Linked DNA regions of Homo sapiens: region 1 is linked to region 2. Evidence: fine-mapped expression QTL. Tissue or cell type: whole blood. Region 2 holds a variant in brackets; the other region holds the start of a gene. All regions are shown on one strand. Distances are from middle to middle.

Region 1 (5,111 bases), 33 kb before region 2:
TTTTATCCTTCTTCTTGGCACTGCTAGAATTTGTGGGGCCGGTTGCAGGCTTCCTGCAAGAGAAGAGAGAGAGGTCTTGTTCACCTCACTACCCAAGAAGCACAGGGAAGCCGGCGAGGTGCCTCTGCTAGTTGAAGCTCAGACAGCCCAGTCCAAGGGCTGCCAGAGGACAATTTCAGTGAGGGTGGGCCACCTCAACAGGAAAAGGGACACAAGGAGCAGCCAGCCCTGGTCACCTGGGCAAGAAGGCATAGGTGAACACCCAAACTGAGAAGAGAGGAGGGTAATGAGAGCTCTGTGGAAGAGATCACAGCAGATCTCAAATTATCCCTGGGTTCATTCATTCACCAGACATTGATGCACCTACTATATTCCAGTAGAGACACAGTGGTAACAAAACACAGAGCTCCTTCCCAGAAAGGGAAGAACAACATCTTGACAGGCAGGTACGAGGAGTGGTCCCAGCAGGTACCTCACTTTGGGAGGCTGAGGCTGGCGGATCACGAGGTCAGGAGATCGAGACCATCCTGGCTAACATGGTGAAACCCCATCTCTACTAAAAATACAAAAATGAGCTGGGGTGGTGGCATGCGCCTGTAGTCCCTCCTACTCAGGAGACTGACACAGGAGAACTGCTTGAACCCGGGAGGCACAGGTTGCAGTGAGCCAAGATCACGCCATTGCACTCCAGCCAGGGTGACAGTGAGACTCCGTCTCAATAAATAAATAAATAAAAATAAAAATAAAAATAAAAATAGAATGAAGCCTGATGTAATAGGAAAGAAGGGACCCTGAGATAGGAATCGCTGACTCATCAGCTGTGGGGGTGCAGGAGAGGGAGAATCTGGGATGACTAGGGGTTTCAGGGTTTCAGCCTGAGCTGGTGAGAAAAGAAGGGATCCAAGAACAGACACCAGCAACACAGGAGGGGCAAGTGGATGGGCAAGTGGAGGGGCAGGGCCAAGGCCAGGGCACTGTAACTCCTGCTCCCATCACCAAAGGCGGCTCCACTGGTCCCTGCGGCCACCTCCTCTGAAGCAGGCTCCCAGGACCCCAAAGTGAGACCCAGACAATGTTGGGGACACTTCCAGGCCACCGTGGGGAGAGGCAACTTAGCAAATGTTCGCCAGGTGCCAGCAGCTGCGCTCGCCCGTAGGCTCCTCCTAACCCGACAGCTTCCTAACTGTTCACACCTGCTTTTTCGTCGCTGCAAAACAAAGACGCACAGGTTTTACATAGGTCACCCCCGGGGCAGTCTCACAGCCAGAAAGAGACAAGAGCACAGACTCCCTCTGGGGACTGTGCTAGGGCTGTGGCCTCAAACCGAATGGGCTCCTGGGTGAACCTGCTGCGACCTGAGGGGGGTCCCTACAACCTGTGCGAGCCTCAGCTACTGCACCTGTACCTGGGAGGTGCTACTGTCAATCTATCGGTTACGGCAAGGGGCGGTGGAGTGATTCCTCTTGCTGGCCAATTTCACTTCAGTTTGCACCTGGCACAATCAACACTGGCAGAATTAACAAAACTAGACAAATATAGCCTCATGATCATTCATGCCTAGCTCTCGGTCAGTATTCAACTTCTTTCTTGTTCATGGTGTGTTACCCTAGGCAAGTCACTTCCCCTCCCTGGGTCTCCATCATCTCCTCAGTAAACTGGGAGCACAGAATAAAGCGCGTGGGAGGATTAAAGGGGACACTTTGGTCGCCCAACACTTGTTCACTGCATAACGATAATTCCAAGAGCGACATCACAGTAAAGACCCAGGCGCCGATCTAAGCGCGTTTCAGCCTCACGCGACGCCTACGAGGTTGAGCTGCGTCATCGGCCCCATTTCGTAGCGGAGGAAAGCGAGGCACTGGGCGGTCAGGCCGCTTGCCGGAGGTCGCCCAGCGTCCCAGCCGAGGACGCGGAACTCAGGGCCGGTCGGGTGTCAGCGCTCCGGAGCATGCGCAGAGGCAGCACGCCATCGGGGTCTTCAGGGGCCCGCGCAGTTCCTGGCGGGGTCGAACCCGAACTCACCCCGAGGGTCCTAACTCCCCACCTCCGCTGCCCATCCTCTCCAGCCCTATGGCGTCTACAAATCCAGACCTGCGGAAGCCCCAACTCACCCAGCGCCTCGCCCCGAGGAATCCGCCATTTTCCCGCCTTCCACCTCAAGGCCCGACCCGCCGGCTTTTCAAAGCCGGACCCGCCCCCTTGCTTGCGGGTCGGACCATTTGTGGAGACGCAGGAGGGGTGGCTGCGAGGCGTGAGGCAGCGCCGGCTAAGTGTGGAGAGCGCGGCCCCAGACGCGCGCTTCGCCTGTCCTCCCCTCGCACTTGGTCTCGCCCACCATCGGCGGTAGTGGGTAGGGGCGGTGGGTGGGACCTGATCTGTCGGACAGTAGGGGCGGGGCTTTTCGCGATGCCCCGCCCCTAGGAGCGCTGGCGTCACGCCCCCGTCCCCGCCTCTCCGGAACCCGGAAGCGGGAGCGCGCGGGGGAGCGGCGGGCGCGGCGGGGCGGAGCGGCTCGAGCAGCGGCGGGCTGGCAGGCGGTCGTCCGGCCGGGGACCCGGCCCGGGACCGGCGGCGCGCGGCGGCCGAGGCCAGGTGAGTACCAGGCAGCCTCGGGTTGGCGACTCGAGCTCGAAGCCTGCCTTTGGGGGCTGCGCAGAAGAGGGACGGAGCTGAGGGCTGATGGGGGACGCGACGGCAGGGGTCGAGGGGGCGGGAACGAGCCTGGGGGTCTTGGAGAGATTGCTGGGGATGAGGTGGAAGCGAGACGGTGAAGGAGAAAGTGGATGGGGATGGAGCTGGTGAGGGAGTTCGAGGGCGTGGGGGGGGTGAGTCTTGTGGCTTTGAGCAGCTTCTCTGAAGAGGACGTGGCTTAAGTGGTAATTGGGGGGTCGCAGGAAACGGCGTTGTGGGGAGGCACGGAGGCGGGAACGAGAGGCCCAGGCTGGGGGAGTGGGCAAGGCCAGGGGCGGGACAGCCGGGGTGCGGTTGAGGGGAAGGGGTGCGAGACCGATCTGGGGACGTCTGCCCGCGCGATTGAAGGAAGGGTGTCTGAGAAGAGGGCGGCGCCTGGCCCCCAGTGGGCGCTCAGTAAATGCGGGGGGTTCTGAACTAACTGATGCGGCAGCCGGCTATTGGGAAGCGGGGAAATGGGAGCTGGAAGGGAAGTAAACGGAGTAGAAGTCACGGTAAGAACTGAGGGTAGGCTTAGGGAGGGAGGGCCCGGAGAGGAGGGAAGAGAAGGAAGGGGTTAGAGTGGCCCCGTGCAGATAGATGTTGAGATGCAGCCCCTGGAGATTCCGTCCCCCCACCCTCCCCTCTTGATTCGTGTCCCTCCTGACTTCACACTTAACAGCTGGGTGACCTGGGACGAGTCCCAACACCCTCTGTGCCAGTGTCCTCGTCTTGGAAACTTCACCACCCTCCCCTTAAGACAGGACTAGCAGGATTCTGGGATTCCCTGGATCCAAGGAAGGGACCTCAGGGCCGGTTGTGGGGCCGGAACTGTGTTTCAGGAGGGAGTGTGCATGCACCCTCATGTACAGGACTGTCGCCACCTCCGCAGAGCTGCATCCTTGGACTTAAATGGGTAAAACGACATACAGGAAATCTGTCCCCCGGTTGCTCTGAGCTCAGCCCTGGAGAGGCACGACAGCCACGAGCCCTCCTTTCTTTCCTGGGCACCCTGGAGGCCAGGGGTCTTTAAGGGATGGCTTCTCTGCCTCTTTGTCTGAGGTGGGAGCCCGTGGGGACACTTTCCAGCCAGAGAGTCCCAACTCGGTTTGTTTTTTGATGTTGGAGTCTTCAGAATCTTAAGGTGTCCAGGAGCAGCCGGAGGTGACCTGGGCTACAGGAAAGTTATTCACATCTGACAGGCCTGGCTCTTGTGGCCCTGGCAGGGACTTTGTGCAGGGTGCTTTTGATTGGCATTCATTTCTCCCCTTTCCCAACTGTAGGGATCTTTATCTGGGATCTGCCAGAAGGGCTGGGGAACCCCAGCTTATGTTTAGTTTATAGCTCATTCAGGAGATGAACCCGGATAGCTGGAATATAAAGAGGGCCACAGAAAGATAAGCACCCCCTTCACTTCCAGAATATCCTGGCCTTTAGGAAAGGTGGCTTTGGCCTGGCTTGCCCCAGGACATGCAGTGACAGCCCACAGTCATGCCTCCTGCAAACATTGAACTGTAGGCTTGCACTGGCCTACAGAACAGGACCGGGATCTTCTGATCCCGCAGCCCTGCAATCGCCTCTTCCCTGCCGCTAGAGAATGGCCAAGCAGGGTCTTGTGGGGGGAGCACTGTGTTGGAGATCCTGGCTTTGGTCAAGTCTCTGTGCCTGTTTCTGACCTCTCACCTGCAAAATGAATGAATTGACCTCCATCAGCGTTTTTCAACCTTGAAACCCAACTCTTCTCATCACCGTCTTGTCTCCAGTCCATGTCCCCCAGCTCCCGGCCTTGAACTCCTCACAGCACCCCCACTCTCCATTCCTGGCTGCGATGATCCTACTTTTATTCCGTTTTCCATTCGACAGTTTGTATCCAAAAATGATTTTTTTTCAACCGCTTCTTCATCGTCCAAATAGAAAATTGCGGTGTTGAAGGTGCTTTTGCACATTGCACCTATTCCCAAAGCTTTGGAAACTGCAAATTTCTGGAAATCCCGAGGCAGTACCGTCCCTCGGGTCCAGTCTGGTGACTCAGTGGAGCAGGTAGAGACGTGGGAATCTCCCCTTTCTGTTTGGCTGTAGGATTCGTTATTCTCTCCCCACATGGACTTGTTAACTTGCTGCTTCCCATTCCTCATCTCTTCCAAATGGTGTGTCTTGGGTGGGCCTAGATTTCAGTTAGGCAAGGGTTGATTGTGCCAGACACTTGGTAGATTCCTGGGGACAGAGGTGAATCCTTATGACCCAGAGGACGGACACGCTAATGCCCGCCCCCGACAACTTTGCACTTCCTCTTCAGAAAGAATGGAGTTCAAGCTGGGCCGCGGTGGCTCAGGCCTGTAATCCCTTTGGGAGGCCAAGGTGGGTGGATCACAAGGTCAGGAGTTCAAGACCAGCCTGACCAATATGGAGAAACCCTGTCTCCACTAAAAATACAAAAATTA
Region 2 (5,190 bases):
CTCTCCCCTCCCCTCTCCTCGCCTCTCCTCTATTCCTTTCTTGTCAGGGTCTCTCTCCGTTACCTAGAATGGAGTGCAGTGGCACAATCATAACTCACCGCAGCCTCGAGAACTTCTGGGCTCAAGCGATCCTCCCACCCAAGTAGCTGGAATTCCAGGTGTGCACCACCATGCCCGGCTAATTTTTAAATTTTCTGTAGAGACACAGTCTTACTATGTTCTCCAGGCTGGTCTCGAACTCCTGGCTTCCAGTGATCCTCCCACCTCAGCTGTTTTTAATATGGCTTGTCTTGTGTGCATTACATTATATACCCAGACCGCCCGTTCATTGCTGTGTGAGCATTTGCTGTGTGGCAGGCTATGATATAGGTGCTGGGCTATGTGGTGGCCAAAGTCAACACAAAATTCTCCCCAGGTAGAACTCGGGGAAGACTCTGGGTGACACAGGAGCTATAGAGGTTCTGAGCAGAGGTAGATGCAACCCAGCTCTGGTCTCCCGAGGCCGCCCTGGCGTCATCCCAGCTCTGAGACTCAGCCACAGTGAAACTGCCAGTGGCCCCAGTGTCCTCCCAGCAGGTGGCCAGGGGGCTCAACGGCTCTCCAGGCCAAAACATCAGTGCCTGGCATCCACACCCGAGATAAAACAGTGATCTTGAAAATTCAGCATGTGTGGCACACACCTGTAATCCCAGAGTCAGGAGGCTGAGTCCTGAGTCAGGAGGATTGCGTGAGCCTAGGAATTCCAGACCAGCCTGGGTAACATTGCAAGACCCCATCTCTACCAAAAAGTTTAAAAACTAGGCTGGGTGCAGTGGCTCATGCCTGTAATCCCAACACTTTGGGAGGCCAAGGCAGGTGGATCACCTGAGGTCAAGAGTTCGAGACCAGCCTGGCAAACATGGTGAAACCCCGTCTCTACTAAAAATACAAAAATTAGCCAGGTGTGGTGGCGAGCGCCTATAATCCCAGGTACTTCGGAGGCTGAGGCAGGAGAATGGCTTGAACTTGGGAGGTGGAGGTTGCAGTGAGCCAATATCGCACCATTGCACTCCAGCCTGGGCAACAAGAGCGAAATCTGTCTCAAAATTAAAAATAAAAATAAAAAATTAGCCAGGCATGGCAGTGCATGCCTGTGGTCTCAGCTCTCAGGAGCTTGAAGTGGGAGGATTGCTTGAGCCCAGAAGTTCAAGACTGCAGTGAGCTGTGATCACACACTGCACTCCAGCCTGGGTGACAGAGCAAGACCCTGTCTCAAAAAAATAACAAAAAAAATTTAGTAGGTGAATGAATGAGAGGGTAGATCCAACATTTACCATGTCAGACATTTTGCCAAATGGGACTAGGCAGGTGGGTAAATGCCTGAGCCCCGCAGAAATGACACGCCCAGCCCCAGGGTCTCAAAGTGGCACGGCCAGGAGGCAGGATTGCCACCTAGGTCTCAGTTCAGGGTCCATGTCCTCCCCACCACGTTGCTGCCTCCACAGCGCCATCTCACTAGGACCCTCCAGGGCGTGGACAAGTTTCCTGTTGCTAAGTGTTAGGGGCAAGGGAGTCTCCAACAACAGGGATTAAGGCTCTCATGGTCCTGGAGGCCAGAAGTCTGAAATCAAGGTGTCCACGGGGCCGCACTCCCTCCCGGCTCTGGGGGAGGATGCTTCAGGCCTCTTCAGCTTCTCTGGTGGCTGCAGATGTGCCCTGGCCTGTGGCCACGTCACATCAGTCTCTGCCTCTGTCGTCAGGGGCGTTCTTCCTGTGTGTCCATGTCTTCACGTGGCTTTCTTATAACAAGGACACCACTCATGGGATGTAGGGCCCATCCTACCCCGGCATGACCTCATCCTACCTAATTGCATTTGCAAAGACCCTATTTCCAAATAAGGTCACATACACAGTTTCTGGGGGTGAGGATGTGGATATAATTTTGGGGGCGGGGGGCTCAAGTCAGCCCACAGCATCCCCCATACAGCCCCACCTGGTCTGCTTCAAGTCCTACCTGGCCCCTGGCAAGTCCCACTTGGTGACATCTTGTGCCTGGGTCCTTGAGGGCTGCCCCAGATCCGCGATTGTCCTGGGGACCGGTAGTTCCTCCCCGGATGCCAGCAAAGCTCCCTCCAGCCTCCACGCCTGCACAGTCTCCAGTATGCCTTCAACAGCCATTAGTCACCCTCTGTGAGTCAGACCCCCGGTCCTGCCAGGCCAACCTGCTTGGGGCCTCAGCAGCGGGGGCTGGCGAGGCCAGTTTTCTCCAGCGGTTCTAAGCCGCTCGAGGGTGGTGCCCACGCCGGCTTCCAAAACAGGCTTGAGCCAAATCCACGTCATGGCAATAAACGTGCTTCCTGGGGCGACTGTTTGCAAAGGGATGTGATTGTCTTCACTGAGAGCTGGATTTCTCAACCTGGCTCTGCTGACATTCAGGGCCGGATCGTTCTCTGGGGAGGGAGTCATCCTGTGCATTGAAGGACATTGAGCAGCATCCCTGGCCTCCACCCACCAGATGCCAGGAGCACTCCCCACCCCGCAGGTGTGACACCCAGAAGTGTCCCCAGACATTTCATTGATTAGAGAGGTATTAACAAAATAGCTTCCCGTTGTCCCCTGGGGACAAATCACCCCCTGGGAATAGAACAGCTGTCTTTGAGTTCTTCCCATAAGACCCAATCACTGTTCATTGC[A/G]GCCACTGAGCTTTTAGAAATTATCTGTGAGTTCTTTCTGTTCTGTGCTAACTTAAGAGTCATTTTCTTTTTTTCTTTTTTTGAGATAGAGTCTTGCTCTATCGCCCAGGCTGGAGTGCAGTGGCACGATCTCGGCTCACTGGAACCTCTGCCTCCTGGGTTTGATTCTCCTGCCTCAGCCCTCCCGAGTAGCTGGGACTACAGGCGCCCACCACCGTGCCCGGCTAATGTTTGTATTTTTAGTAGAGACGGGTTTCACCATAGTGGCCAGGCTGGTCTCAAACTCCTGACCTCAAGTAATCTGCCCTCCTCAGCCTCCCAAAGTGCTGGGATTATAGGCGTGAGCCACCATGCCTGGCCCCAAGAATCTTTTTTTTAATTTTATTTATTTATTTATTTATTTATTTATTTATTTATTTATTTATTTATTTTGAAACAGAGTTTCTCTCTGTCTCCGGGCTGGAGTGCAGTGGCGCGATCTCGGCTCACTGCAAGTTCTGCCTCCCGGGTTCGTGCCATTCTCCTGCCTCAGCCTCCTGAGTAGCTGGGACTACAGGTGCTCACCACCACACCCAGCTAATTTTTTGTATTTTTAGTAGAGATGGGGTTTCACCGTGTTAGCCAGAATGGTCTCGATCTCCTGACCTCGTGGTCCGCCCACCTCAGCCTCCCAAAGTGCTGGGATTACAAGCATGAGCCACTGCGCCCGGCCATCATTTTCTAATAAGAGGAATAAGACCTCAGGCCCACTGGGTATCAGGGTTTGGGCTTCGTGATTTTCCTCCATCATCTCTAATCCCTCACGGCAGCTCTGCCCATTTTAAAGATGAGGAAACTGAGCCCCAGAGAGACACGTGGATGTGTGAGTTTCCTGAGGTGTCTATAACAAAGTATTACGGGCTGGGAGCCCTCAAACAGCAGGGGTTGATTCTCTCACAGTTCTGGAGGCCAGAAGTTGAAAATCAAGGTGTGGGCAGGGCTGGGTCCCTCTGGAGGCTCTGAGGGAGAATCTGTCCCAGGCCTCTCTCCCGGGTTCTGGTGGCTTCAGCCATCCTTGGAGCTCTGGGCTTGTGGCCGCATCACTCTGCCCTCTCCCTCCGTCGTCACCTGGTCTTCTCCCCTGTGTGTGTCCAATCTCCCTTGCCTTTCTCTCATGGGATCACCTCATCTCAAAATACTTACCTTCATGACATCTGCCAAGACCCCGTTTCCAGATAAAGCCACAGTCACAGGTTCTGGGGGTAAGGACTTAGACATGTCTTTTTTGGGAAGCCACAAGTCAACCCACTGCAGGTAGATTCCCCAGGCCACACCGCAGAGAGCCAAAGCCTAACCCGGGGTTTGAACCCGGCCTGAGCCCCAGCCCCCCGTTCAGGCTGCCTCTCTGCTCTCCCCTCTCTCGCCCGGGCTGCAGAAAGCCGGAGATCAGCACAACTCGCTGCATCGATTGGGGATTTTTTCTCAGCTCCCCGAAAGGAGAAGTTGAGCTGTTTTGAGGTTTGAGTGTCGCTGGATGCACCCCCTGACCCCCGCCCCCCGCGAGGGTTGCAGCCTCGCTGTGTAATGCTGACCAAAAAACAGGAAGGGAGCACTGTGGAAAGCCGGTTCCAATCAGCTGATCTGCCCGCCACTGCAGTTAACTGTTGCCATCACCTTTCACCAAGTCTAGGGGCTGCAGAAGCCATGAGTCTCCCCATCTTCCACATGGCCTCTAGCCTCCCAGTGCAGGCGCCCGTCGACAGCCCAGGGGCTGTGGATAGAGCACCTTACAGCATCGGCCATGGGGTCTCGCCGCAAAGCACACCCAGAACACGCTCCTCTCCCTTTGCCCACAGCCTCAGATCCACCAGGCACTCGCCTCGGTGCCCTTCTGAGAGCAGGCTGAGTCCAGGGGGCCAAAGGCTGGGGTTCCCTTCATCTGTCCTGAACTGTAGCAAGTGCAGCTGGCAGCTGGCAGCGTGCATGGGGTTTTCATTCTGAAAGCAGAAATAAAATAAGGATCCTTGCTTGTCAGGCTGTTGTCCCAAGGGTCCCTGGACTCCATGGAGCCCCTGTGGCCCGGCCCACAGTGGGACACGGTGACAGTGATGGGCTGCAGGGCGCAGAGGGACGCCCCCAGCTGGTGGAGCCAAGCTCACCCGAAGTTGTGCCGATGCCCAGGACATTCCAGTGAGGGACTGAGGAAGGGTCCTGAACGTGCCACTGCCCCAGACCCCCCTCTTGGGGCAAAGGAACCTAGGACTCGTACCCACCTGGACCGGGTCCTGAGCTCCTCCTTAGGGGCCCTACAAACCCAGTCTCATGTTTCCCCCAACTCCCCCAGCCCCTCTGCCATCAGCCAGGCCACTAGCTCTGTTCCCCCACCCACAGTCAGCACTGGGGTAGGTCACCTAGACCACAGTGCCATTATCCACTTCGACCTCTGCCCTCAAGGACACCTGCCTGGGCCACGTCCTTTCCCCCTGAGTCTGTCGGGCAAGACACAGTTGGATGCCAGCCTCCACCCAGCATTGGGGGC

What was found. PIP is the estimated chance that this variant, and not a neighbour inherited with it, causes the effect.
Region 1: it holds the start of MYO9B, and the variant in region 2 is fine-mapped to the expression of MYO9B in whole blood (INTERVAL, PIP 0.99).

What each region holds. Positions count from the first base shown.
Region 1 is chr19:17,073,283-17,078,393 of GRCh38, forward strand. It overlaps MYO9B (myosin IXB), which reads left to right and starts at 2,495. Exons shown (of 40, transcript NM_004145.4): 1 at 2,495-2,592. It overlaps HAUS8 (HAUS augmin like complex subunit 8), which reads right to left and starts at 2,170. Exons shown (of 11, transcript NM_033417.2): 1 at 2,112-2,170; 2 at 1-53. The coding sequence starts at 2,140. RefSeq lists an enhancer at 1,913-2,112 and silencers at 2,293-2,642, 2,637-2,931.
Region 2 is chr19:17,105,981-17,111,170 of GRCh38, forward strand. The region is part of intron 2 of MYO9B (myosin IXB); the gene reads left to right. Among named protein-coding and RNA genes, the nearest start is that of SNORA118, 16 kb to the left of the region's middle. RefSeq lists enhancers at 2,270-2,319, 4,352-4,461, 4,425-4,926. The variant A/G (reference allele first, on the strand shown) is at 2,673.